Linked DNA regions of Homo sapiens. The protein of the gene in region 2 interacts with the protein of the main gene of each other region in a pairwise test. Each region holds a gene or a part of one and is shown on either strand. Other genes may lie near its edges. The genes, in order: KASH5, ITGAM, KIR2DL3, ELOVL4, ARL13B, PIGP and SYT2.

The links.
Region 1: the proteins of ITGAM (region 2) and KASH5 interact in binary tests that used the Homo sapiens proteins (3 or more experiments, as listed by UniProt).
Region 3: the proteins of ITGAM (region 2) and KIR2DL3 interact in binary tests that used the Homo sapiens proteins (3 or more experiments, as listed by UniProt).
Region 4: the proteins of ITGAM (region 2) and ELOVL4 interact in binary tests that used the Homo sapiens proteins (3 or more experiments, as listed by UniProt).
Region 5: the proteins of ITGAM (region 2) and ARL13B interact in binary tests that used the Homo sapiens proteins (3 or more experiments, as listed by UniProt).
Region 6: the proteins of ITGAM (region 2) and PIGP interact in binary tests that used the Homo sapiens proteins (3 or more experiments, as listed by UniProt).
Region 7: the proteins of ITGAM (region 2) and SYT2 interact in binary tests that used the Homo sapiens proteins (3 or more experiments, as listed by UniProt).

The regions. Positions count from the first base shown.
Region 1 is NC_000019.10:49,394,749-49,398,248, forward strand, and holds part of KASH5 (protein KASH5), read left to right. Parts: intron 1-357; coding exon 358-544; intron 545-1,020; coding exon 1,021-1,085; intron 1,086-2,902; coding exon 2,903-2,969; intron 2,970-3,233; coding exon 3,234-3,395; intron 3,396-3,500. UniProt on the Homo sapiens protein: As a component of the LINC (LInker of Nucleoskeleton and Cytoskeleton) complex, involved in the connection between the nuclear lamina and the cytoskeleton.
Region 2 is NC_000016.10:31,325,975-31,329,474, forward strand, and holds part of ITGAM (integrin alpha-M isoform 2 precursor), read left to right. Parts: intron 1-881; coding exon 882-961; coding exon of another isoform or gene 962-1,004; exon of another isoform or gene 1,005-1,025; intron 1,026-2,172; coding exon 2,173-2,256; intron 2,257-3,253; coding exon 3,254-3,329; intron 3,330-3,500.
Region 3 is NC_000019.10:54,737,043-54,741,312, forward strand, and holds the start of KIR2DL3 (killer cell immunoglobulin-like receptor 2DL3 precursor), read left to right. Parts: upstream 1-1,470; 5' UTR 1,471-1,503; coding exon 1,504-1,537; intron 1,538-2,464; coding exon 2,465-2,500; intron 2,501-4,270. UniProt on the Homo sapiens protein: Receptor on natural killer (NK) cells for HLA-C alleles (HLA-Cw1, HLA-Cw3 and HLA-Cw7). Inhibits the activity of NK cells thus preventing cell lysis.
Region 4 is NC_000006.12:79,941,054-79,944,553, reverse strand, and holds part of ELOVL4 (very long chain fatty acid elongase 4), read left to right. Parts: intron 1-3,500. UniProt on the Homo sapiens protein: Catalyzes the first and rate-limiting reaction of the four reactions that constitute the long-chain fatty acids elongation cycle.
Region 5 is NC_000003.12:93,986,655-93,990,154, forward strand, and holds part of ARL13B (ADP-ribosylation factor-like protein 13B), read left to right. Parts: intron 1-1,291; exon of another isoform or gene 1,292-2,408; intron 2,409-3,500. UniProt on the Homo sapiens protein: Cilium-specific protein required to control the microtubule-based, ciliary axoneme structure. May act by maintaining the association between IFT subcomplexes A and B. Binds GTP but is not able to hydrolyze fit; the GTPase activity remains unclear.
Region 6 is NC_000021.9:37,064,874-37,067,472, reverse strand, and holds the end of PIGP (phosphatidylinositol N-acetylglucosaminyltransferase subunit P), read left to right. Parts: intron 1-92; coding exon 93-211; intron 212-1,760; coding exon 1,761-1,891; 3' UTR 1,892-2,099; downstream 2,100-2,599. UniProt on the Homo sapiens protein: Part of the glycosylphosphatidylinositol-N-acetylglucosaminyltransferase (GPI-GnT) complex that catalyzes the transfer of N-acetylglucosamine from UDP-N-acetylglucosamine to phosphatidylinositol and participates in the first step of GPI biosynthesis.
Region 7 is NC_000001.11:202,605,955-202,609,454, reverse strand, and holds part of SYT2 (synaptotagmin-2), read left to right. Parts: intron 1-514; exon of another isoform or gene 515-3,500. UniProt on the Homo sapiens protein: Exhibits calcium-dependent phospholipid and inositol polyphosphate binding properties. May have a regulatory role in the membrane interactions during trafficking of synaptic vesicles at the active zone of the synapse.

The DNA.
Region 1 (3,500 bases), on a different chromosome or scaffold from region 2:
GGTGAAGGCCTTTTAGAATGAGGAAAACTTGGGGGACGTTGATGGAAGAGGGCAGAGTTTTGGGGTCGTGGGATAGGGGAGGGAGGCAGCCACCATGGTGGCGTGGGGCATGGCTGATGCTGTCCCTATGTCCATCCCCTTTGGTTTACCCTGTGATGGGGGGATGACTGGGCCCCATTTCCAGGTGAAAAAGTGGACTCAGAGGAGGGGAAAGGGCTTGCCCAGTGTGTCTCCACTGGGCCATGGAGCAGGAGTGCCACCAGCCTAGCCAGTGACATCCTGGTCCCAAGCTGCTGCCAGTCCATACCCATCACTCCCCACCTGCCCCAGACCCCCTCACTGCATGCTCTGTCACAGGCACTGTGGCTGTGGCCCAGGTGCTGGCCTACCTGGAGGCTGTGACAGGCCAGGGCCCCCAGGATGCACGCCTCCAAACATTGGCCAACAGCCTGGACCCCAATGGGGAGGGCCCTAAGGCCACTGTGGACTTGGACACTTTCCTGGTTGTCATGCGTGACTGGATTGCTGCCTGTCAACTACATGGGTGAGTCCCCACATCTTCATCCTCCTCTGGGAAGTCCTTCCTAAGATCTAACCTCATACCTGCTTACTGGAGCCAGCATCCTTTAGGCCCAAGGACCTACTGTGTTTGGAATGAGGCTGTGGAGAGAAAAATGAAGAGACGGGATTCAGAGGGGGTAGATAGGGAGTCTGAGGACAAAATAATTTGGATGAGGAAGCAGAGGGGGTCTGGGAGACAGAAATAAAATGGGGCTGGAGAAGGGAGGAGTTTGGGGCTGACAGAGGTCCCTCCCCAACCCTTCACCAAACCCACTCCTTGCCCCTCCTGCTTTTCCATCTGGCCACGGGCACTTGCCATCTGGCCTCACCCTCCTACCCTGTGGTGCCAGCTCTCACCTGACCCGGTCCCCTCCTCCCACCTGCAATCCCCCTGCCTGTGGCTGGTGAGGACTGAGGGGCAGCTACAGTGGGGCGCTAAGCCTCATCCCTTTGATACAGGGGATTAGAGCTGGAAGAGGAGACCGCCTTCCAGGGAGCCCTGACCTCCCGGCAACTGCCATCTGGTGAGATTGCTATATATAGAATGAAGCAGGCAGGCCCTGGGTCAGACAGTGTGGGGACTTACCACCCAGGGCAGAGCAAGGGATAGGGTAGGAACCAGGGACCTTTACTGTAGACTAGAGCTGTGAGTGTGGCTTTCTAGGTCCTCCGTCCCTTCCTTCCGTGAGCTTTGGGTTTCTTTTCTTCAGAGGGTGGTTTCCAACTCGTTCTCCTCACACCAGCCCTATTAGAGAGGCCTACGAGGCCCCGCCTACCTCTGCTCCATCATTAACATCACCTCTCCTCACTCTAGTCCAGGAATTCACAGGCCCACTGGTCTTGCTGCCCTTCCTCGAATGTGCCCCACTTCTGCCCAGCACAGGTCCTTGCTCAGGCTGTTCCCCTCCACTCCTTGCTCCCCACCCTGCTGGACTTTTTTTTTTTTTTTTTTTTTTTTTTTGAGATAAGAGTTTCACTCCTGTTGCCCAGGCTGTTGTGCAATGGCGCAATCTCAGCTCACCGCCACCCCCGCCTCCTGGGTTCAAGCAGTTCTTCTGCCTCAGCCTTCCGCATAGCTGGGATTACAGGCATGCACCACCACGCCCAGCTAATTTTGTATTTTTCATAGAGACGAGGTTTCTCCATGTTGGTCAGGCTGGTCTCGAACTCCCGACCTCAGGTGATCCAACTGCCTTGGCCTCCCAAAGTGCTGGGATTACAGGCGTGAGCCACTGCGCCAAGCCGTCATCCACTCCTCTGGCAAAGGGGAAGCCCTGGTATGCCCCTGGCTAGAGTTCCTTGCTCCCCATGCTCACTCCTAGACTTGTAGGCCTTTCCATTGGAACATCCACCTGCAGAGGAAATCTGATTATCTAGTTAGCCACTGGCACCTGGGTTTAGTTGGCTGGTTTGCTCACCATTGTATCCCCAGGACCTCACACATAGGAGGTGCTCCATAAAAAAAGTGGTCATGATTACAGGCGTGAGCCTGTAATCCCAGCATTTTAGAAGGCCAAAGTGGAAAGAACATTTGAGCCCAGTAGTTTGAGACCAGCCTGGGCAACATAGTGAGACACCATCTCTACTAAAAATAAAAAATTAGCTGAGTGCGGTGGCATGTACCTGTGGTCCTAGCCGGGACACTGAGTCAGGAGGATCGCTTGAGCCTGAAAGGTCAAAGCTGCAGTGAGCCATGCATTGCACCACTGCACTCCAGCCTGGGCAATAGAGCAGGATCCTGTCTTTTAAAAAAAAAAAAAAAAAATGGTGGTCATGTTCCATTTCTCTAGCCATACAAAAAACGGTGGGGAAGGAAGTTCTCTTCAACCTCCTTCATCAGGCTTGGGGGCCCAGGGAGGGCTGCAAGCAGAGGAGGGACTAGAGGCCAGAAGGCCAGAGAAGAGGCTCTGGTGAGGATCCAAGAGGAGAAAGCAAGGGCCGGGGCATGGAGACAGAGAGGAGGGGTGGAGCAGAGAGTCAGGGGCAGGAGGGAGAAGTCTGGGCTCTGCTGGACTGGGGGTGACAGGGAGCAAGGGAGCCAGGTCCGCCCAGTGGCTGAGTGGTCGGTGGGGGATCTGGGAAGGGGAAGGTGAAGTGCTGCCCAGTGTTGGGTGTAAAGAATGTGGGGAGTTAGGGTTATCTGGGAGATCCAGCCTGAGCTCAAGGTAGAAGACAAGCAAGAGGGCTTTACAGTGGGTATAACTGCAGCCCCAAAAGCCCATGAGATTCTCCAGAGCACAGGTGAGGGTGGAGGCAGATGGAGTCCAACCTCAGAGCCCTGGGGCACTTTACGTTTAAGGGTTCCAGGGAAGCCAACATTCTCTTGGCTCTCTCCCTCCAGGATGCCCAGAAGCTGAGGAGCCAGCCAACCTGGAGAGCTTCGGAGGCGAAGACCCCAGACCCGAGCTGTACCTATCCTCACACCCCTCCCTGACCCTCCTGCCCACACCCTGTCCCCTCCAGCCTGCCGAGGCCCGGGTAGGGCTTGGGATCCTTCAGGGAAATGAATGAGGGACGGGGCTTTGCTGAAAGTTCAGGGAGAGCAGAGGAGTCTCTCTCCTGTTTATCTTTCCCCAAAAGAGCCACATCTCCCCACCACCAGCACCTACCTCGACCCGGGGAAATGAGTCAGGGGCTGTGGACAGTGACCTGAACCCCTTCCTTGCCCCTAGACAAGCCACAGCTGACCTGCTGAGCAGCCTGGAGGACCTGGAGCTCAGCAACCGACGTCTGGTTGGGGAGAATGCCAAATTGCAGCGGAGCATGGAGACAGCTGAGGAGGGGTCAGCACGCCTTGGGGAGGAGATCTTGGCTCTGCGTAAGCAGCTTCACAGGTGGGCTGGATGCCACACCCACCCTCCCCAGCGCCCCTGCCTCCGTCCTCCCTGCAGCAGCCGGCCTCTATCTCCCATGCTCGTGTCTGCATCCTGCTCTTTGAC
Region 2 (3,500 bases):
AGGATCGTCTGGGCCTGGGAGGTTGAGGCTGCAGTGAGCTATGATCACACCACTGCACTCTAGCCTAGGCGACAGAGTGAGACCCTGTCTTGAAAATAAATAAAATGAAATAAAATAAAATAAAGTATACAGTTCAGTGGCTTTGAGTGAATTCATAGGGTCTTGCATCCGTCATCATGATCCATTTTGGAACATCTTCATTACCTCACAAAGAGCTTCTGTTCCCGTTGGCCCTCAGCCCCAGTCCTCCCATATCCCCCAGCCCTATGCAACCACTAATCTACTTTGTCTATAGATTTGCCTATTCTGGACATTTCATATAAATGAAATAATCCCGTATGTGATCCTTTCCCTAGCATAATATTAAGCAAGGACTTAGCAAGGATCATTCATGTCGTAGTATATGTCAGTACCTCATTGCTTTAAAAAAATTGTTTTTAAATTTTTTATATATATTTTTGAGATGGAGTTTCACTTCGTTGCCCAGGCTGGAGTGCAGTGGTGCAATCTTGGCTCACTGCAACCTCTGCCTCCCAGGTTTAAGCAATTCTTGTGCCTCACTCTCCCAAGTAGCTGGGGTTACATGCGCCCGCCACCACACCCAGCTAATTTTTGTATTTTTAGTAGATACAGGGTTTTGCCATGTTGGCCAGGCTGGTCTCGAACTCCTGACCTCAGGTGATCCACCTGCCTCAGCCTCCCAAAGTGCTGGGATTACAGGTGTGAGCCACCGCACCTGGCCTTCATTGCTTTTTATTTGGTGAACAATATCCTGTTGCATGGATGGGCCATATTTCATGTCTCCATTAATCAGATGACGGGCATTTGGGTTATTTTTTCTCTCATATTTCTGTCATTGTCTCTCCTTTCTCTCACTCCAGGTCACCTTTAATATCACGTTTGATGTAGACTCTAAGGCTTCCCTTGGAAACAAACTGCTCCTCAAGGCCAATGTGACCAGGTGCTCTCTGCTACCAGGCTTCTGCAGGCAGTTGCCCGTCTGACGCCCCAGCCCCTGGCCCATGGTGGGCCTTTGCCCTTTGCCCACTGGTTCTCCCTTCAACTCATTTGTTCACTCAGCAAACACTCACTGACCACCCACCACGTGCTGGGCCTTGTGCTGAGTGCTGGTGGGATGGTGGTGGATCAGACGATAGTGGTTCCTGCCCTCTCGGAGATGATAATTTAGTGGCAAAGACAGACAAGAAATCTAGCCATTAATCTTGCATCCATCTCAAATCCAGTATGAGATGCAAGATTAGATGGGGGACGGCCAGTGTTCTTGGGAGTTTGGTGTTCAGAGAAGATTCCTAAAGAAAATATATTTAGGAGCTGGGCGTGCTGGCTCAAGCCTGTAATCCCAGCACTTTGGGAGGCTGAGGCAAAACAATTGCTCGAACCCAGGAGTTCAAAATCAGCCTGGACAACATATCAATACCCTGTTTCTACAAAAAAAAAAAAATACAAAAATTAGCCAGGCATGGTGGTGCATGCCTGTAATCCCAGCTACTCAGGAGGCTGAGGCACAAGAATTGCTTGAGCCTGGAAGATTGAGGCTGCAGTGAGCTGAGATGGTGCCACTGCACTCCAGCCTGGGCAATAGAGTGAGACCCAGTGTCAAAATAATAATAATAATAATAATAATAAAAAATAAAAGGGAAAAAAAGAAAATATATTTAGACAAAGCAAAGGCATGAACTGAGGGCGGGCATGAAGACAGAAGGCAGGAAGCAGATACCAGGGACGGGAAGATCAGGGTGTGTTTAAGAGTGGCCTCAGCATGAAATGCAGGGCTGAAGGAGTTGGTGGTGGTTAGATACAGGCCATGTCCCAAAATGACTGACGGGTGTTGTTTGGGATTTGCAGTTTCGCCTCTGGGAGTGACATAATCATATTTGCATGTTAGAACGATCACTCTTCAGGAGGGCTGGCGATTGGGGTGGGAGCAGGTGTGAATTCAGGGGACCAGTTAGAAGAAGGTGGTTGCAGACATCCAGCTGGAGAGGGATGGGCCTGGGCTAGGCGGGGGCAGGGGTTGGAGAACAGTGGGGTTTCAGATGCAGAGATAACAGAACTTGGTGGCTGATTGGAGGCAGGGAGTGAGGGAGAGGGAGGAGCAAAGACTAACTGTCAGTTCTCAAGAGCCGGCTGGAGCTCTTTCTTTCCCTCCAGTGAGAACAACATGCCCAGAACCAACAAAACCGAATTCCAACTGGAGCTGCCGGTGAAATATGCTGTCTACATGGTGGTCACCAGGTGCTGGCTTCCAGGACTTTAGCTGAGCCTCCACTTCTGGGCTGGACATGGCTGATTGTGCATCTGTGTGCATGAGTCTGTGCATGTGTGTGTGTGTGAGAGTCTGAGGATCTCTGTGCATGTATGTGTGCATGGGTGTGTATTTGGGCATGGGTGTGTGAGTGTGATGATCTATGTGCATGTTTGTGTGCATGGACGTGTATTTGTGCATGTGTGTGTCTGAGGATGTATCTGCATGTGTGTATGTGTGCATGGGCGTGTATTTGTGGATGTGAGTGTGATCTATGTGTGTGTGCGTGCATGGGTGTGTATTTGTGCGTGTGTGTGAGGATCCTTGTGCATGGGTGTGTATTTGTGCATGTGTGTGTGAGGATCTATGTGCATGTGTGTCTGGGCATGGGTGTGTGTGCATATGTGTGTGTCTGAGGATATATGTGCATTGTGTGCATGGGTGTGTATTTGTGCATGTGTGTGTATGAGGATCTGTGTGCCTGGGTGTGTATTTGTGCGTATGTCTGAAGGTCTATGTGCATGCGTGTGCGCATGGGTGTGTATTTGTGCATGTGTGTGTGTGAAGGTCTATGTGCATGTGTGTGCGCATGGGTGTGTATTTGTGCATGTGTGTGAGGGTCTATGTGCATGTATGTGTGCATGAGTGTGTATTCGTGCATGTGTGTGTGTCTGAGGATCTATGTGCATGTATGTGTGCATGGGTGTGTATTTGTGCGTGTGTGTGTCTGAGGGTCTGTGTGCATGTGTGTATGTGCTCATGGGTGTGCATTTGTGCACGTGTGTGTGAGTGGCCCAAATGGGCACGCACTGTGTGTCCAGCACACATTGGTTCCCCCATCCCCCTGCACCCCACCCCATCTCCACCCCCCAGGACTTCATACCCATTACCCATGTGCCTGTTCGCTCCTTACACACTTAGCCTGAGACACCCTCCCAGGGCACCCCTCATGTTTTGTCACCTCCTGTCCCTTTTTTCTCCCTTCAGCCATGGGGTCTCCACTAAATATCTCAACTTCACGGCCTCAGAGAATACCAGTCGGGTCATGCAGCATCAATATCAGGTGGGCAGCTGGGACGTCTGGGTCCTGAGAAGGAGGCTGGGGAGGAAAATCGATGGTAGAAAATGCAGAAACAGGGATGGGAAATGTGCGCAAGGCACCTGTGGTGTGCCAGGCTTGGTTCCACGCTGCTATCACTCAGTATGCACACATACACGCACGTATGTATGTGAC
Region 3 (4,270 bases), on a different chromosome or scaffold from region 2:
AAAATATTTTGAGAAAAAAAATCCCCGAAGTTTCAAAAAGCAAAAAACTATGTTGAATCGACACAAATTGAGTGGCGTGTAGGCTGTGTCAGGAATTATAAGTAATCAAGAGATGATTTCATGTATACAGGAGGATGTGCATGGGTTCTATGCAATTGCTATGCTATTTTTTTTTTTTTTTTGAGACAGTCTCACTCTCTCACCCAGGCTGGAGTGCAGTGGCGTGATCTCAACTCACTGCAACCTCCGCCTTCCAGGTTCAAGCGATTCTCTTCCCTCAGCCTCCCCAGTAGCCTCCCCTAGGATTACAGGCACGTGCCACCATGCACAGATAAATTTTTTTGTGTGTATATTTTTAGTAGAGATGGGGTTTCAGAATGTTGGACCAGCTGGTCTTGAACTCCTGACCTTGTGATCTACCCAGCTCAGCCTCCCAAAGTGCTGGGATTACAGGCGTGAGCCACGGTGCCCAGCTTCACTATGCCATTTCATGCAAGGGGCTTGAGCATCTGCAGATTTTGGTATCTGAATGGGGATCCTGGAACCAATCACCCAGGTATAGTGAAGGACCATGGTATATAATTTTTATTTGTCAATCTTAAAAATAAAGCATAAAAAATTTACAACAACAAGATAAAAAATAAGAAGTGTTTTTATAGTGTGAGGATAAGTTTAGATTTATTTTTTCCTACGTGTAACCCTATGGTCCTGTGTTATTTGTTGAGAAAATATTCTATTCCACCTTAAACTACATGGCAGCCTTTGTCAACTATAAAGGGACTGTGTATCCACAGATGTATTTTAGACACAGTTTTCTGTCCAGTGGTTCTCTGTATCCCCTCTCATGAGGATGCTGCATTTTATATAAACTTATAGAACCCCTTAAAATTTGGTAACCTGAGTCCTCTGATTTGTTATTATAGGTTATTTAGTTTGCTTTTTTTTTTTTTCTTGAGACAGACTCTTCCTCTGTCACCCAAGCTGGAGTTCAGTGGCTTGAGCTCAGCTCACTGCAACCTCCGTCTCCCAGGTTCAAGCTATTCTGATGCCTCTGGTTTAGTAGTAGAAACTCAAGCAGGAAAATTAGAATGGCTTCTTGTCACAATTACTCTGATAATGTTAATAATACCTGTTAGACATTTTGCACATTACATATGAAGAAGAGTTTGAATCTCAGATAAAAACAAAAATACATCAAAAATCTTTAATGTAAGCACAGAATTCAATCATCTCGTGTATGAGAGGTTGGATCTGAGACGTCTTTTGAGTCTGGTCGTAGTGAAGGACGCAAGGTGTCAATTCTAGTGAGAACAATTTCCAGGAAGCCATGTTCCGCTCTTGAGCGAGCACCCACTGGGCCTCATGCAAGGTAGAAAGAGCCTGCGTACGTCACCCTCCCATGATGTGGTCAACATGTAAACTGCATGGGCAGGGCGCCAAATAACATCCTGTGCGCTGCTGAGCTGAGCTGGGGCGCGGCCGCCTGTCTGCACAGACAGCACCATGTCGCTCATGGTCGTCAGCATGGTGTGTGTTGGTGAGTCCTGGAAGGGCATCGAGGGAGGGAGTGCGGGGATGGAGATCGGGGCCCAGAGTTGGAGATATAGGCCTGGAAGTGGAGTTATGGGCCTAGAGATGGAGTGATGGGCCTAGAAGTGGAGATCTGGGCCTGGAGTGGAGATCTGGGCCTGGAGTGGAGATATGGGCCTGGAGGTTGAGATATGGGCCTGCAGTAGAGATATGGGCTTGTAGTGGAGACATGGGCCTGGAGATGGAGATATGGGCCTGGAGATGGAGATATGGGCCTGCAGTAGAGATAGGGGCCTGGAGTGGAGATATGGGCCTGGAGTGGAGATATGGGCCTGGAGTGGAGATATGGGCCTGGAGGTGGAGATATGGGCCTGGAGGTGGAGATATGGGCCTGGAGTGGAGATATGGGTCTGGAGGTGGAGATACGGGCCTGCAGTAGAGATATGGGCCTGGAGTGGAGATATGGGCCAGGAGTGGAGTTATGGGCCTAGAGGTGGATATCTGGGCCTGGAGTGGAGATATGGGCCTAGGAAGGAGATATGGGCCTGGGTGTGGAGATATGGGACTGGAGAGGTGATATGGGCCTGGAGTGGAGATATGGGCTTAGGGTGGAGATCTGGGCCTGGGGCGGAGATATGGGACTGGATTGGAGATAGGGGCCTAGGGTGGAGATCTGAGCCTGGATTGGCGATATGGGCCTAGGGTGGAAATATCAGCCTGGAGTGGAGATATGGGCTTGGGGTGGGGATATGGGCCTGGAAACTGGGTCTCTGCACAGCCGACAGCCCTGTTCTTGGGTGCAGGTAGGCACTGAGGGTGAGTTTAACTTCAGCCCAGGAAGGGCCTGGCTGCCAAGACTCACAGCCCAGTGGGGGCAGCAAGGGAGGCCTGGTTTGCCTGCAGATGGATGGTCCATCATGATCTTTCTTTCCAGGGTTCTTCTTGCTGCAGGGGGCCTGGCCACATGAGGGTGAGTCCTTCTCCAAACCTTCGGGTGTCATCTCCCCACATAAGAGGATTTTCCTGAAACAGGAGGGAAGTCCTGTCGGGGAGTCTCTCATAAACTAGGAAGAGAGGACCCTGGGGTGCTCAGCCCACATTTCTGACCTCGCCTCCCTGGCCTCTCAACCCCTTGGCAGAGTCAAGTTCTGTGGGGACCAGGGTTAGACTGGGGTGCTCAAAGCTGGGGTGTGTGGTTGGGAAGTGGTAGGAACAGCAGATCCTCTGAGGACAAAGGTGTTACTCACACACTTCAGCGTTTCCATGATGGTAGGGGCTGCAGTGTGGCTGCTGTCATTCTACCAGAAGAGGTGGGAAACCACAGCCATGGCCCTGACATTCCAAATCCTCTGATGGGGGCTCAGTTGTTTATTTTCGTTCAGGCATCCGCTGATATCCATTCACAAAGGACATGCCCTCCACCTCATGTCTACCCTGTGTTGTTTTATGTGAGTAATCTTACAGTATTAAAATCTAGTAGGAGTCTCTTTACTCAGCACTTGCTCAAAGTTCTCAGCTGAGGCTTTTGTTGTAGGGAGACACCATGTCTTTGCGGGATGGGTCCTTCCTTCAGCCCTGGGCACCAAGGTGTGATAGTAGCCATAGAAACGTGGAAAGCGAGGAGAATCTTCTGAGCACAGGGAGGGAAGGGCAGTTCCACATCCTCCTCTCTAAGGCGGCGCCTCCTTCTCCCCAAGGTGGTCAGGACAAGCCCTTGCTGTCTGCCTGGCCCAGCCTTGTGGTGCCTCTAGGACATGTCATTCTTCGGTGTCACTCTTATCTTGGGTTTAACAACTTCAGTCTGTAAAAGGAAGGTGGGGTGCCTGTCCCTGAGCTCTACAACAGAATATTCTGGAACAGCCTTTTCATGGGCCCTGTGACCCCCGCACACACAGGGACATACAGATGTCGGGGTTCACACACACACTCCCCCAGTGGGTGGTCAGCACCCAGCAACCCCCTGGTGATCGTGGTCATAGGTCAGAGGGCTCCTGTCTTGGATTCTCCTTGTCCCACCTCCTGAATCCCAGAGCTTCTGTTGGGCATGTCCTTGAGGGTCCCATCACGCAGGCCCTGACTGTATTTGTGGTAAAGGGGGATTGAATACAGGGAAATGGGTGCTGTGGTGGGAAGAATAATTGTCCCCAGTGATGACTACATTCTAATCCCTGGAGTCTGTGACTATTTATGTTATAGGGGAAGGGACTGAAGGGGAAGATGGAGCTCATGGGGAGACAGCCTGGACTGTCCCACTGGGCTCAGTGTAATCACAAGGGTGCACATGAAAGGAGGAGGAAGAGGGGAGTGGGGATTAGAGCAGTCCAGTGGAAGTCTTCACCAGCTTTGAAGGTGGAGGAAGGCCAAGATCCATGAATGCAGGTGGCCTATAGAGGCTGGAAAAGTCAAGGAACTGATTCTCCAGAGTCTCCAGAGGGAACAAAGCCCTGCAGATGCCTTGATTTTAGCCCAGGAAAAATAGGGTCCAATTTCTGTCTCCAGTACTGGAAGGTGTCAGTGTGGTCTCTCCTGCTGCCATGCTTCTGATAATTTTCTACAGCAGCAACAGGAAACCAACACTGGAACCCAGGTCAAGGACAAGTTAAGAAACAACCCAAGGAAAGCCAGGCATGGTGGCAGGTGCATGTAATCCTAGCGACTCAGGAGGCTGAGGGCAGGAGAATCACTTGAACCCAGGAGACAGAGGTTGCAGTGAGCCTAGACCACACCACTTCACTCCAGC
Region 4 (3,500 bases), on a different chromosome or scaffold from region 2:
GTTAACAACAAAAATGTTACTTTTACTACAGTATTAACACTTTGTACATTGGAATTGAAAGTTTGAAAGAGCTATACTTTTAGAAAAACAACAAAAATAATTTTTATTTCTCTGTATTTGTAGACATTTTGAACGAGGAAATTAGCGTTGGTTTATGTTAAAGTATAGGCTGGTGTAGGACTTTATACTAGTTGTTAGTATTAGAGTAGGTATTCCATGTCATCATGTTAGTTTTTTTCTTCTATTCTTTCACTTCATGAGTACATTTAAATTATTAGGATTGGAGTCCTAGGCTCAACGTATACATCTAATAAAAGTTGTATATACATTTTTTAAACTGATGAATCTAAATATTCCCCAATCTATGAATACCCAACTTATCTACATTATTCATTTATTCATGCTTTTAATAAATGTTTAATAGCTTTTTTGCATACCTGACATTTAGCATATAAACACCCTAGAGAGTTAGTAGGATGCTTACGGTAAAGCCAGGTGTCTCCTGTGAGGCCATGTATCTTCTGACCATTTGTTTCTAAATAGCTGTTGTTCACAGGGTATGGGTGCTGTCTGTTGGTTGGGGGTGGTAATGATTGGCATTGGCCCTCTTTTCGCAGATATAGTACCCTGCATTTTGGTGAAAAAAATTGTCTACTTGGTAGTTGCAGTTAGAACATAACTTGCTGGGTCCTTGAATTAACTTTGGAGGGGTCAGAAAGAAGGGATGAGTGGTACAGGAAGAGGGAGGAGAGCTGTAGGATGACGAAATGTGGAAGCCAGGCTTATGATACCATTTCTTTCCGTATTTACTTGCCATGTACAGGCACAGTTCTAGGCTCTGGAAAGGAAAGGAGGACACTTGGTCACTGCCCTCATGCATCTTGCAAAGTCTAGGGGGTCACTGTCATTCCCCTTTCCTTGATATCATGGTCTGGAGGCAGTGTGATCTGTCAGACTCAGGACTAGCTGGGGCCTAGGGAAGATCAGAAAAGTCCTTCCCTGCTCTTCTCATCTCTACTTCTCCTAAGTGAAAGGAATATACAGTTGTTTTTAGAATATTTTAGCTGTTTCACCACAGTTTACTTCCCTCTACCCTTGAATGAGGAGTTGATGTGAGTACTGTCAGAGTATTTGGAGAGGCATACTAGGGCAAAAGGTGTCAAAGGCAAGGGGAACAGCTTGACTGAAAACCATGGAAACTGGGAAGGTGCTTAAGGGTCAGGCCAGTGAGTCATCCAGGTTTGATGAAGCTGGGGGCTAGTGGGAGGGGATGTTTAACTCAGCTCAAATAAGCTGAAGTAAAAGCAGGTTTGTCTTAGGGATTGCTAGGTCCCAGAGGAGCATGTATTTTAAGTATTGTACAGTATGCTTACATTAATTTTATTATTCGTCACAGTTAATGTTTAGTTTTTCATCTATGTTATTATCTAAAATAGGTTTATTTGTTTGGCTAAGCCTGGTAATGCAGTTTTCTTTGAATGTTTCTTTGAGAAAAGACATTCTGATTCCAAGTTGTAGGCAGCTAATTAAAAAAAAAAAAGAAAGAAAGAAACATCACCAGCTCCTAACATGGGATCTCCCTTGGTCACTGTTTTCAGTGACGTCCTAATTATCCTTTACTCATAAGCTCCTTGAAGCCTCTGGGATGTCCATGCCATTTTATGGTTTTTTGTTTTGGTTTGGTTTTTATTGTCTTTTCCTTCACCACAGTTTGATTTTTGGTGGTAGACTGCTAGACTTTAATAGCTAATGCTCTTATCCATTCCCCAATGATAGCATAAAGTAAAACATCCTATTGCAGATGGAATTCCAGGAGGGTAAACAATGCAGGTTCTAAAACGGGTGTCAGGACACAGTTTTAACTATTTTAACTTAGATTCTTTGGCTTAGGAAGACAAAGTTTTAAGAATTATGCAGATAATTATATCAGATGGCACTTTTGTAAACTTAAGAGCCACAGAGCACTTGGTCATCCTTTAAAAATTCAATTTGTTTTCTTATTTTTTTGCTCAAGTCCTGTGGATAATGTCACCTGTAAATGCTTTAACATTATTAACGTAAGTATTTTCATTTGTTAAGCCACTTATTATTCTGAATTAGGCATATATTAGCACACCGAAATGAGTAGTGTAACAGTCTATCTTTTTTCACTTTAGATGTTTTTTTCGTCTTCATTATCAGGACATTTTGCCTGTTAACAAACGAAGGTACTATTGTTTTATTTTCTATTAGAATATATATTTTAAAATCATGTGGGTTTGGATTTCAGAAAGGAGATGGGAGGAAACACATGGCCTTTTAAAGCCAAGGTCCACATTAACTTTCTCGCTTGATCCTTCAGTATTCCCCTGCCCAAAGACCTGCAGCTCTAGCCAACTGGGATAACTCACTGACCCTTAAGTAAAATGTGTACATGTCCACCTTTATGTTTCTCATCCCACCATTCCCCTTGCCTTTACCCACCTTTTCCCTGTTTACCTCTCCAGATACCTTTTACCAGAACCCAGTACAATAGTCCTCCTTTGCAAAGCCTTTCTTGTTTATGGTACCCTGGAGCAAGTTGTTGTCTCACAGGAGCTCATTGTCTTTAGTAATTACTCACGTATTTCCTGTGCCATTCCTTCTATGACCCTAGTGTCAAACTGTTTAAACTTTCGTTATTATTTACCACTTCACTCCTTTGTATCTTTCTCTCCAACATCAGAGATTATCACATATATTTGTTGATATGATATGTATCAGGAGATGACCCTCTTAATCTAGCATAATTTTGAATCATGATATATTGTGGTTGCTAAACATGAATAAGGCTTTAGACCACACTAAATTACAGAAGGTTTTTGTTTTTGTTTTTCATAGAGTGGGGATTTCACCATGTTGCCCTGGCTGCTCTTAAACTCCTGGTGTCATGTGATCTGCCCACCTCAGCCCCACAAAGTGCTGGGATTACAGGCACGACCCACTGTGCCCGGCCAGAGAGTTCTTTAAAAGAATGATATTTTTTATGAGTTGGTCATTAATTCAGTTGCCGTTCACTAAATTTAATGAGTAAATCAGGCCATTAAGTCATTTAGAAGCACAAAACAGATAAAAAATGAAGATTCCAAGACATATAAAATCAGATATGATTGTTCTCTTCATTGTCTGTGCAGAAGCATTGCCTTGTGTGGAAGTGAGGAGGGCAGTGTGGTATAGTGAATGGGAAGAATTCTGGACTGGGATTTAGATGACCTAGGTTTTAGTCCTGGTCTGCTGCTGATTTGCTATGAGAGTTTGGACAAGTTCCTTTGCCTTCCCAATTCTCAGCATTGTTCTCTGTAAATTAAGAGGGTTAAATTAGGTAATCTGTAAGGTCCTACCTGACTCTAAAAGTCTAGATATAGATATCACTTTCTTTATTCTTGGAATAGGTAAAGCAATTTCAAATAAATATACATTTATCAGGGATTCAGAAACCTCATTCTTTATAGTAAATAAAATTTTTTTCCAGCAAAACTGTT
Region 5 (3,500 bases), on a different chromosome or scaffold from region 2:
TAATATTTTTGAAGTTAGAAACAGCTTTTATGGGCCAGGCATGATGGCTCGCACCTGTAATCCCTGCACTTTGGGTGGCCGTGGTGGATGGATCAGTTGAGGTCAGGAGTTCGAGATGAGCCTGGCCAACATAGTGAAACCCTGTCTCTACTAAAAATACAAAAAATTAGCCAGGCATGGTGGCAGACTCCTGTAATCCCAGCTACTTGGGAGGCTGAGGCAGGAGAATTGCTTGCACCCAGGAGGCAGAGGTTGCAGTGAGTGGAGATCTCGCCACTGCACACTCCAGCCTGGGTGACAGAATGAGACTCCGTCTCTAAAAAAAAAGGAATAGCTTTTATCTAATTATCATATTGAAAGTATTGTCTTCCTTAGTTAAAAGATGAGGAAGTTTAGACTTGTAGGTGTTCAAATGATTGTGATAATGTCATTCAGGAAAGATTCAGAATTTAAATGTTTTCTAAGTTCAATCCTCCCTAATGCCATGATGCTTATATTTCTGATTTTTTTTTTTTTTAAATAGAGACAGGATCTCACCATATTGCCCAGGTTGGTCTCAAACTCCTGGGCTCAAACAGTCCTCCTGTCTTGGCCTCCCAAAGTACTGGGATTACAGGCATAAGCCATTGTGCCTGACCAGTATTTCTGATATATTAATTTGTATATCCGTTATATAAAAAGGAATTCTGAGATAAGATATTCTCATATTCTCACTTAGGAGATCTATTATATACATTGTGTTGACTTGAACAATATTAATTATTAGCTTCTGGAGTATGGAAGTCTTCACTTGTTTCGGCAGATAGCTAAAGTGATGTAAAACAGACCTTTGGATCCCTTAATCTCTACCTTTGATTTTTTTTTGTTTTTACTAAGAATTATTTCAGTTTTTTCTTTTGTAATGGAGATTTTATTTGTCGTGTTGAGAATAAGTATACAGACATTTCAAATTGTACACAATTCTTAACATACATACCAAAAATCTAGAAAACCTCTATTGTAATTCCTTTTTCTGAAACGGTCTCTCTCTATTGCCTAGGCTGGAGTGCAGAGGAGTGATCACGGCTCACTGCAGCCTTGACTGCCCGGGCTCAACCGATCCTCCCACTTCAGCCTCCCAAGTAACTGGGAGGTGCATGCCACGATGCCTGGCTAATTTTTTTTTTTAATTTGTAGAGACAAGGTCTCACCATGTTGACCAGGCATGTCTCAATCTCCTGGGCTCAAGTAATTCTCCCACCTTGGCCACCCAAAGTGCTGTGATTATAGGTGTGAACCACTGCACCCGGCCTCTTTTTTAAATAGTTATTATAGTGACATTCCAACTTAACATTTGGAGGCAAATTTTTCTTAAGAGGATTATCAAGAGCCAGTATCTACAAGTGTTTGATAAGCTGTACACGTTCTACCAATTCACAGTTTAATAGCATGTACACTATATACCCAAATTTTCAATCTTTCACAGCACATTAACACAGTTATTAGGAAATCAGGACTTCTGTGACCAAAGATGTTATAGTGTACACAGTTCTGACAGGGAGAGCCATGATCAAGGAGTGGTTTTCTTTAGGAAACAATTCTGTGAAAAAAAAAAAAAAACATGGCAATAGAAGTAATTTAAAATGTTCAAGACATTAAATGCAGGATTCTGACTCTGTATTGCCATTTAGTATATTTTGTATTACAGTATATAAAAACTAAGCCCCCATCTGTGGAATGTTAAGCTGACATCCAAGACAGTCAAAACTTCCTGTAATTCAATATCCCATACTATTCTCTGGTTTCACCAAAAAATAAACAACCAGAGAATTATTTCACCTCAGAAAAAACTTAACAATGGAATGAGGTGGGAGTTCCTGCTACTTAAAATGTTTCTAGAGCTACTAAAAGACTTGCACTTACAAAGCAGTTGATAAAAATACCCTGGATTGTACAAGAAGGGAGACAGGGACTACTGATAAGACATGGTATATGATATTAATCAGACTTGGCTTCTTTCTCTCCTGCTTCATCAAAGGTTGGAGTCTCCTCGGTTTTAGTTTCTTCGTTTTCTGCAGGTAAATCTTATTTAGTTTCTTGGTTAGCCACTTTGGCCTGTTTTCCCTATGCTCCCCTTTTCCCATTTGTTTGCATTTTTTTTTTTTTTTTAATCTGAAGATTTAGCCTTTCCTGATGCCTCTTTGGCTTCATTTCCACTTTTGCAGGAGCAGGTTTAGCTGACAAGTGCGCAGATCTCCTCTTGGGCTCTTGCTTCGCCACCCCTTCGGCTGAACTGACCTTCCTCTTGGGCATCTTGGCGGCAGGAGGGGCACTTGCTGGGCACCTGTGGGCCACGGAGCTGAGAGCCTTCGCGAAGCTGGGCTGCCTGGCTACTGGCACTCCTCCCGCTGCCCGAGCTGCTGAGACCCCTATTTCAGTTTTGAAAGTCTTTCTGTTAATTAGTACCTTGAAACCATGAGCATGTAAGCTTTTTCAGAAAACTTCAGCCAATTTGATATATATGGATATAATTACATTCTTTAATATGAACTATTTTGATGTGAAGATTTATATAAATTAGCTTCATTATAGTACTTTCTCAATCTAAAGTTATGTATTTTAATTTTACTTAGTATTTACTCAGCAAATGGGGTTCAGAAAATGTTTGTTGTTTCTTTCAGTAAAGAAGCCTACTGTGTGCCCAACACATTTGATACAGGCACTACAGAGCTGATAAAGAGAAGTTCTGGTAGAGGAGCCTGTATAAAAAGTAGCCGGGGATGGTTGTGAAGGGCTGAAGGAGTACTCGGCATGGAAGGAATCCTCGGCATGGCAGGCTTCCTGGGAGTGGCAGAAGTGGGGGCTGCCAAATTGAGACTTGATTCTCTATAAGGATTTTAAGCAGAAAAATGCTATGGTTAATTTTTTTTTTTTTTTTTAAACAGCCTCATGCTGTCAACCCAGGCTAGACTGCAGTGGCATGATCCCAGCTCATTGAAACCTTATTTAATTTTCATTATATCCCTTTAGAGTAGCTATTGTTATTATCCTATTTCATTCATGAAATTCTGAAAAGTAATGTGCCATATAGCTTAGAAATGGCAAATCTGGCACTTGAACTCAGGTCTCTAACACCAAATTTGTGGCTACATTTCAGAGTACCCATAATACCTCTTATGTTACTTATTACTAGTATAACATACTGTAAATCTTATAATACTACAGAGTCCTTTGTATCTCAGCCTTTCTAGTAATCAAAGACCCAGGGATGACTATAATATTAGGAGTAAGCGGCTCACTTTCAACTTCTGGAAAGGTTACATCATTAATTATTTGATAATACAGTTTGAGTATCTCTTTTTTTTGTTTTGTTTTGTTTTGTTTTGTTTGAGACGAAGTCTCCCTCTGTCGCCCAGGCTGGAGTGCAATGGCACGATCTCAGCTCACGGCAACCTCCACCTCCTGGGTTCAAGTGATTCTCCTGTCTCAGCCTTCTGAGTAGCTGGGATTGCAGGTGGGCG
Region 6 (2,599 bases), on a different chromosome or scaffold from region 2:
AATTTAAAAAACATGTTGGCTTTGTGACCGACTCTTGAGAATTACAACTTTTTTAAAGTGTCTATTATGTACTTTAATATTCTCTTTGGCAGATATTGGGCAGTTGCATTACCTGTCTACCTCCTTATTGCTATAGTAATTGGCTACGTGCTCTTGTTTGGGATTAACATGATGAGTACCTCTCCACTCGACTCCATCCATACAATCACAGGTAACTTTATATAAAAGGAAAGTGCTGGGGCAATGAAAGAGTGGAGTATTAGCACTTTTACCCAGAAAAGCAACAAAGAACAGGCTGCAAAACCCATGTTGGTGGTGCGCGTCTGTAATCCCAGCTACTTGGGAGGCTGAGGCAGGAGAATCACTTGAACCCAGGAGGCAGAGGTTGCAGTGAGCCAAGATCCCACCACTGTACTCCAGCTTGGGTGACAAGAGTGAAACTCCATCCTAAAAGAAAACACACACACACACACACACACACACACACACACACACACACACGGACAGTAAAAAGAAGCTACTAAGAGAAATAAATACAAACTTATATAAAAGGAAATATTTGCATGAAGGAATTAAGTTCTGATGAATACACACTAGCTATATTCATGGAGGAAATAAATTATAATTAATTATAGCACTGGTTAGCAGGTGTATGTTCCCATAAAAACCACAAGTATATGCTATATGTGTCTATAATATGTTCCCATTAACTTTGCCTGAGAGAAGCTTATCCTGAACAGACACCGTTGATCAAGGGATAGTAAATAGTACATGCAGACCTTGTTCAGAAAAAGGACTTTGGGGGTGTGTATCCTCCTCAGGATCATTGTGTACTCCTTATTCCAATTAAGTGGATAAAAGAGCCACAACACGTTCGTCTGGTTTTATTTTTTTAAAGTTCTTTCAAGTCTAAAGATGAAAATAAATCAGACTCCTGAGCTTGCTTAAATTCTAGAAAGTAAAGTATTTTTTAAGTTCCCTGGTATGATTTTTCAACTTTTCAAAACCTTTATATATTAGCCTCTACAATGTATTTTGAAAATCAATTCTATTATTTTTAAGTGTCTTTCTAATACACTGCATTCCATGCATTCTTGATTGGAATTGGCAGCAAATAGGTAATTTGTGCAAAGAGGGGAAATTGTTAAGATTGCATGAATATTTATACCAAATGATTTAATAGTTTTGCCATGTTGATTTAAATACATTTTCAAGGCCTGGATATAATTCTGTTCCCGTGAGAAATGTGCAAATGAGACTTTAATCATCATTGTATGGTTGATTAAAATATTGATTTCTTTCCAAGTTAGAGATGAAAAAAGTACTTTACTGATGTTTTTATTTTTTTATTTTTATTTATTTATTTATTTATTTTTTATTTTTTATTTTTGAGATGGAGTCTCGCTCTGTCACCCAGGCTGGAGTGCAATGGCGCAATCTCGGCTCACTGCAGGCTCCGCCCCCTGGGTTCACGCTGTTCTCCTGCCTCAGCCTCCCGAGTAGGTGGGACTACAGGCGCCCGCCACCTCACCAGGCTAATTTTGTGTGTTTGTGTTTTTAGTAGAGACAGGGATGTTTTTATTTTAATTGGGACATTTCTTCTAAAGAGAGGATTTAAGTAATCATCTAATTATGTTAAACATGATGTTTGTCACTATCCAAACGTCAGCCTAGTAAACTATGTGGTGGGTCTCCATCAGACACAGAGACTGTAGAAGAAATTGCTTAGGTAAACAGAGCTTTTTGGTCTTTTCTTACAGATAACTATGCAAAAAATCAACAGCAGAAGAAATACCAAGAGGAGGCCATTCCAGCCTTAAGAGATATTTCTATTAGTGAAGTAAACCAAATGTTCTTTCTTGCAGCCAAAGAACTTTACACCAAAAACTGAACTGTGTGTAACCATAGTAACACCAAGCACGTATTTATTTATAAGTTTTTGCCATTATAATTTTGACCATAAATTAATTTGACCATCTCTCTTATTAATAGAGAAGTAAAAAATGTAAGTTGACCTTCTCTTAGATTATGTTCAATGAATATTGTAAATGTTCAAGTATTGTTAATGAATAGAATAAATACAATATTGCATTCCCATATAGCAGACTTAAAAAAAAAAATCAATGTCAGTATAATCAAGAAGTTCCTCCAGAGAGGCATTTATATTGTAATTTGCAAAGGGCAATGATGTCCTTCCTCCTGTTTGTCCTGAGGGGCCCAGAATTCAAACCCTTAGTTTTTGGGAAGGGTACAGTTAGTACTTGTGCCATCAGATTCATGTCTAAGACACAAATATTTGTTGAGTACTCACTGTGTACCAGGTATTTTTCTAGGCACTGAGGATGAAGTAATGGTAAGATTCTCTCTCAAAGAGCTTATAGTTTTAGAAGCAGGGTGAGGCAACTAAGCAAATAAACAAGGAAATATAATTTGATGAGTGCTATGCAAAGAATTAAGATAATGTATTCTAGAATGCAAAGGGATGACTAGTTCACATTGGGTGGTCAAGGAAGGCCTCTCAGAGAGAGGCTGTTGGGATCTAAGTATAAAGCAGGTGAGGCAAAGACCATAAGGTGGGAAGGAACTTGGTTTGTCCTAA
Region 7 (3,500 bases), on a different chromosome or scaffold from region 2:
CAGGGGTCTAGAACTAGAAATACCATTTGATCCAGCAATCCCATTACTGGGTATATACCCAAAGGATTATAAGTCATGGATTATAAGTCAAGGATTATAAAGACACATGCACACGTATGTTCATTGCGGCACTATTCACAATAGCAAAGACTTGGAACCAACCCAAATGTCCAACAATGATAAGACTGGATTAAGAAAATGTGGCACACATACACCATGGAATACTATGCAGCCATAAAAAATGATGAGTTCATGTCCTTTGTAGGGACATGGATGAAGCTGGAAACCATCATTCTCAGCAAACTATCGCAAGGACAAAAAACCAAACACCGCATGTTCTCACTCATAGGTGGGAATTGAACAATGAGAACACATGGACACAGGAAGGGGAACATCACACTCTGGGGCCTGTTGTGGGGTGGGGGGAGGGTGGAGGGTTAGCATTAGGAGATATACCTAATGTTAAATGACGAGTTAATGGGTGCAGCACACCAACATGGCACATGTATACACATGTAACTAACCTGCACATTGTGCACATGTACCCTAAAATTTAAAGTATAATAAAAAAATAAGTGTTGTCTGGGATGTGGAAAACTTGGAACCCTCATACATTGCTGGTGGGAACATAAATTGGTGCTGGCACCTTAAAATGTCAAACATAGTTATGACCCAGCAATTCCATACCTATGTATATACCCAAGAGAAATGAAAACATATGTCCACGCAAAAACTTATGCATGGATGTTCATAGCAGCATTATTCATAATATCCCACAAGTGGGATATTATTAGCTATATTTAGTTATAAAATAGCCCAAAGTGGAAATAACCCAAATATTTATAAATTGATGAATGGATAAATATAAAATATGTTCTAGGCAAGGTGCGGTGGCTCATGCCTGTAATGCCAACATTTTGGAGGCTGAAGTGGGAGGATTGCTTGAGGCCAGGAGCTCGAGACCAGCCTGGGCAATATAGGGAGACCCCATATCTACAAAAAATTAAAAAATTAGCTTGGTGTGATGGCATGCACCTGTAATCCCAGCTACTCGGGAAGCTGAGGTGGGATGATCACTTGAGCCCTGGAGGTGGAGGCTGTAGTAAGTGGTTGCACCACTGCACTCCAGCTGGGTGACAGAGTGAGACCCTGTCTCAAAAAAAAAAAAAAATGTTTTCTATCTACACAATGGAATACTATGTGGCAATAAAAAGGGAATGAAATACTGATACATGCTACAACATAGATGAACCTTGAAAACATCATACTAAATGAAAGAAGCCAGTCACAAAGACCACATATTTTATAATTCCATTGATAGGAAATGTTTAGGATAGACAAATCTATAGAGTCAGAAAGTAGATTAGTGGTTGCTGGAGCTGGGAAGAGGATGGGAATGGAGAGTGACTGCTAATGGGACTGGGTTTCTTTTTGAGGTGGCAAAAATGTTCTAACTTAGGTTATGCTAATTGTTCCACTATTCTGTGAATACAATAAAATGCACTGAACTGTGTACTTTAAAGGGTGACATATGTGAATTACATCTCAATAAAGCTGTTTTTTAAAAAAAAAAGGTCACAGAGCCCTGAACAGTGTGGTAGAAGTGAGGGGAGATGGACATGGCGGAAGGCCCTGGACACACATCTTTATCCCTTTGTGTGGCTACTTGCAGTTCCCGCCAAACCGGACCCATCTCTTTGTCCCCAGAGGCGAAGTCCAGTGGACCTTGGTTTTTCACTTCAAGACCAGTTTTGGGGTCAAGGCTATTTCAACATGGCAGACAGTAAGAGTTAAATAAATGCTTGGTGAATGAACCTACATTGCATCAATGTACAGGCCACCAGAAGTACTTAAGGCTGGAGCAGTCTCCAGGGCTGGGGAGGGGATCTCAGCAGGTTTTTAAAGGAAGGGACAGAACTTAAGAGCTCCTAAAATGTTCCTTCAGAAGAACCCTGAGTCTAGAGGAGAGTTAACTCATACCTAACGTGCAGTGAGAAAAGTCTCACATTTTTTCTTTAAATTCTTGTGCTGTATGCATCCTACTCTATTATTTCCAGCTTGTTTTAATTTAAAAATACTGTAAATTGCCATTCAGTAAAACGGATGCCTCAGGGAGTTGTGCTGTTTATTCTTGCATCCTGGAATACCTGTGGGTGTATGCTGCTATGTTCCCTCAGAGGAGCCCAGTCAACAAATACCCAGAGTGCCCGCTGTGTGCTTGGCACAAGGGGTGCTGTTGCCAACACAGGATCTGCCCTCATGGGACTTTCAGTTGAGAAATAAGTGCATAGCCCTGAGGAGCAGAAAGAGCTTGGTGGAGAGGACAGAATTATGGGGGGCAGAGTTTGGAAGCTCGTAAGAACATTGCCTTAAATGAAGACCAACATTTATGCTCAGTGTTTTACTAGGAAAAAGTTGAAAACTGCCTAAATGTCTACCAGTGGAATGGCTAAAAAAATTATGGTGTTACCATATAGTAGGATATTATGTAGCTATTTAATAATAAAAAACAATAAAGGAAAAGGCTTATGATGAAATTTTATGTAAAAAATCTTGAAAAAAAACTATACATAGTATGGTCTCAACATGTAAAACATACTCAGAAAAAATACCAGCATAGAATGCCCCAAATGCTAGTTGACTTTGGAGGGTAGAATTATGGGGGGATTTCTCTCTCTCTCCCCAAATTTTCTACAGTAAGTCTGGGTTATGTTATTAATAAACATCACATCTTTGATGCGGGAAGGCTAATCTACAGCTGCATGTGGGGGCAGGGCTAGAGATGAACCTGGAGTAGGGGCCACAGAGTAGACCGGGGAGGAAGGGCTAGAGATGGAGATGTGGGTGCCGTCTTCCTACAGGAGAGGTCAAAACAAACCCTGAGTGGGCACTGAGGGAGCCCGTGAAGAAACCGCAGAGAGCTGAGGAGTCTCGCGGGGCAGGAGGAGGAATTGGAGTCAGGGATGAGGAGAGTCAAGTGTCATGGAGCTGGGCAGAGATTCTAGGCAGAGTAGTATCTAGAAATCCTTGGAAGTCAAGGAGAGAGGTTGAAAGAGGAGCCCTCAGTGTAAAACCTTGTCTCCTTCCTAGAGTGGTGAGGTTAGATTTCAATGAGATATAGGAGAGTGATTAGCTATACAGGCTCTGGAGTTGGGCAGACCAGTTCAAACCTCAGTTTCAGAACTTACAGCTAAGTGACCTTGGAAAAACTATCTAACCTCTCTGAACCTGTTTCCCCATCTGTTAAATGGAACCAATAAAAACCATTAGGTTATTTTTTGGATTAGATGAATAATGCATGGAAAGTGTTTTGCACAGTGCTTGGCACATATATGTACTATTTTTTTTAAGAGACAGAACCTTACTTAATCACCCATAGCTCATGTAACCTCAAACTCCTGGACTCAAGTGATCCTCTATCACTTCAGCCCCCACTATGCCTAACTAAAAAAAAAAAATTTCTAAAGATAGGGTCTTGCTATGCTGCTCAGGCTGACTGT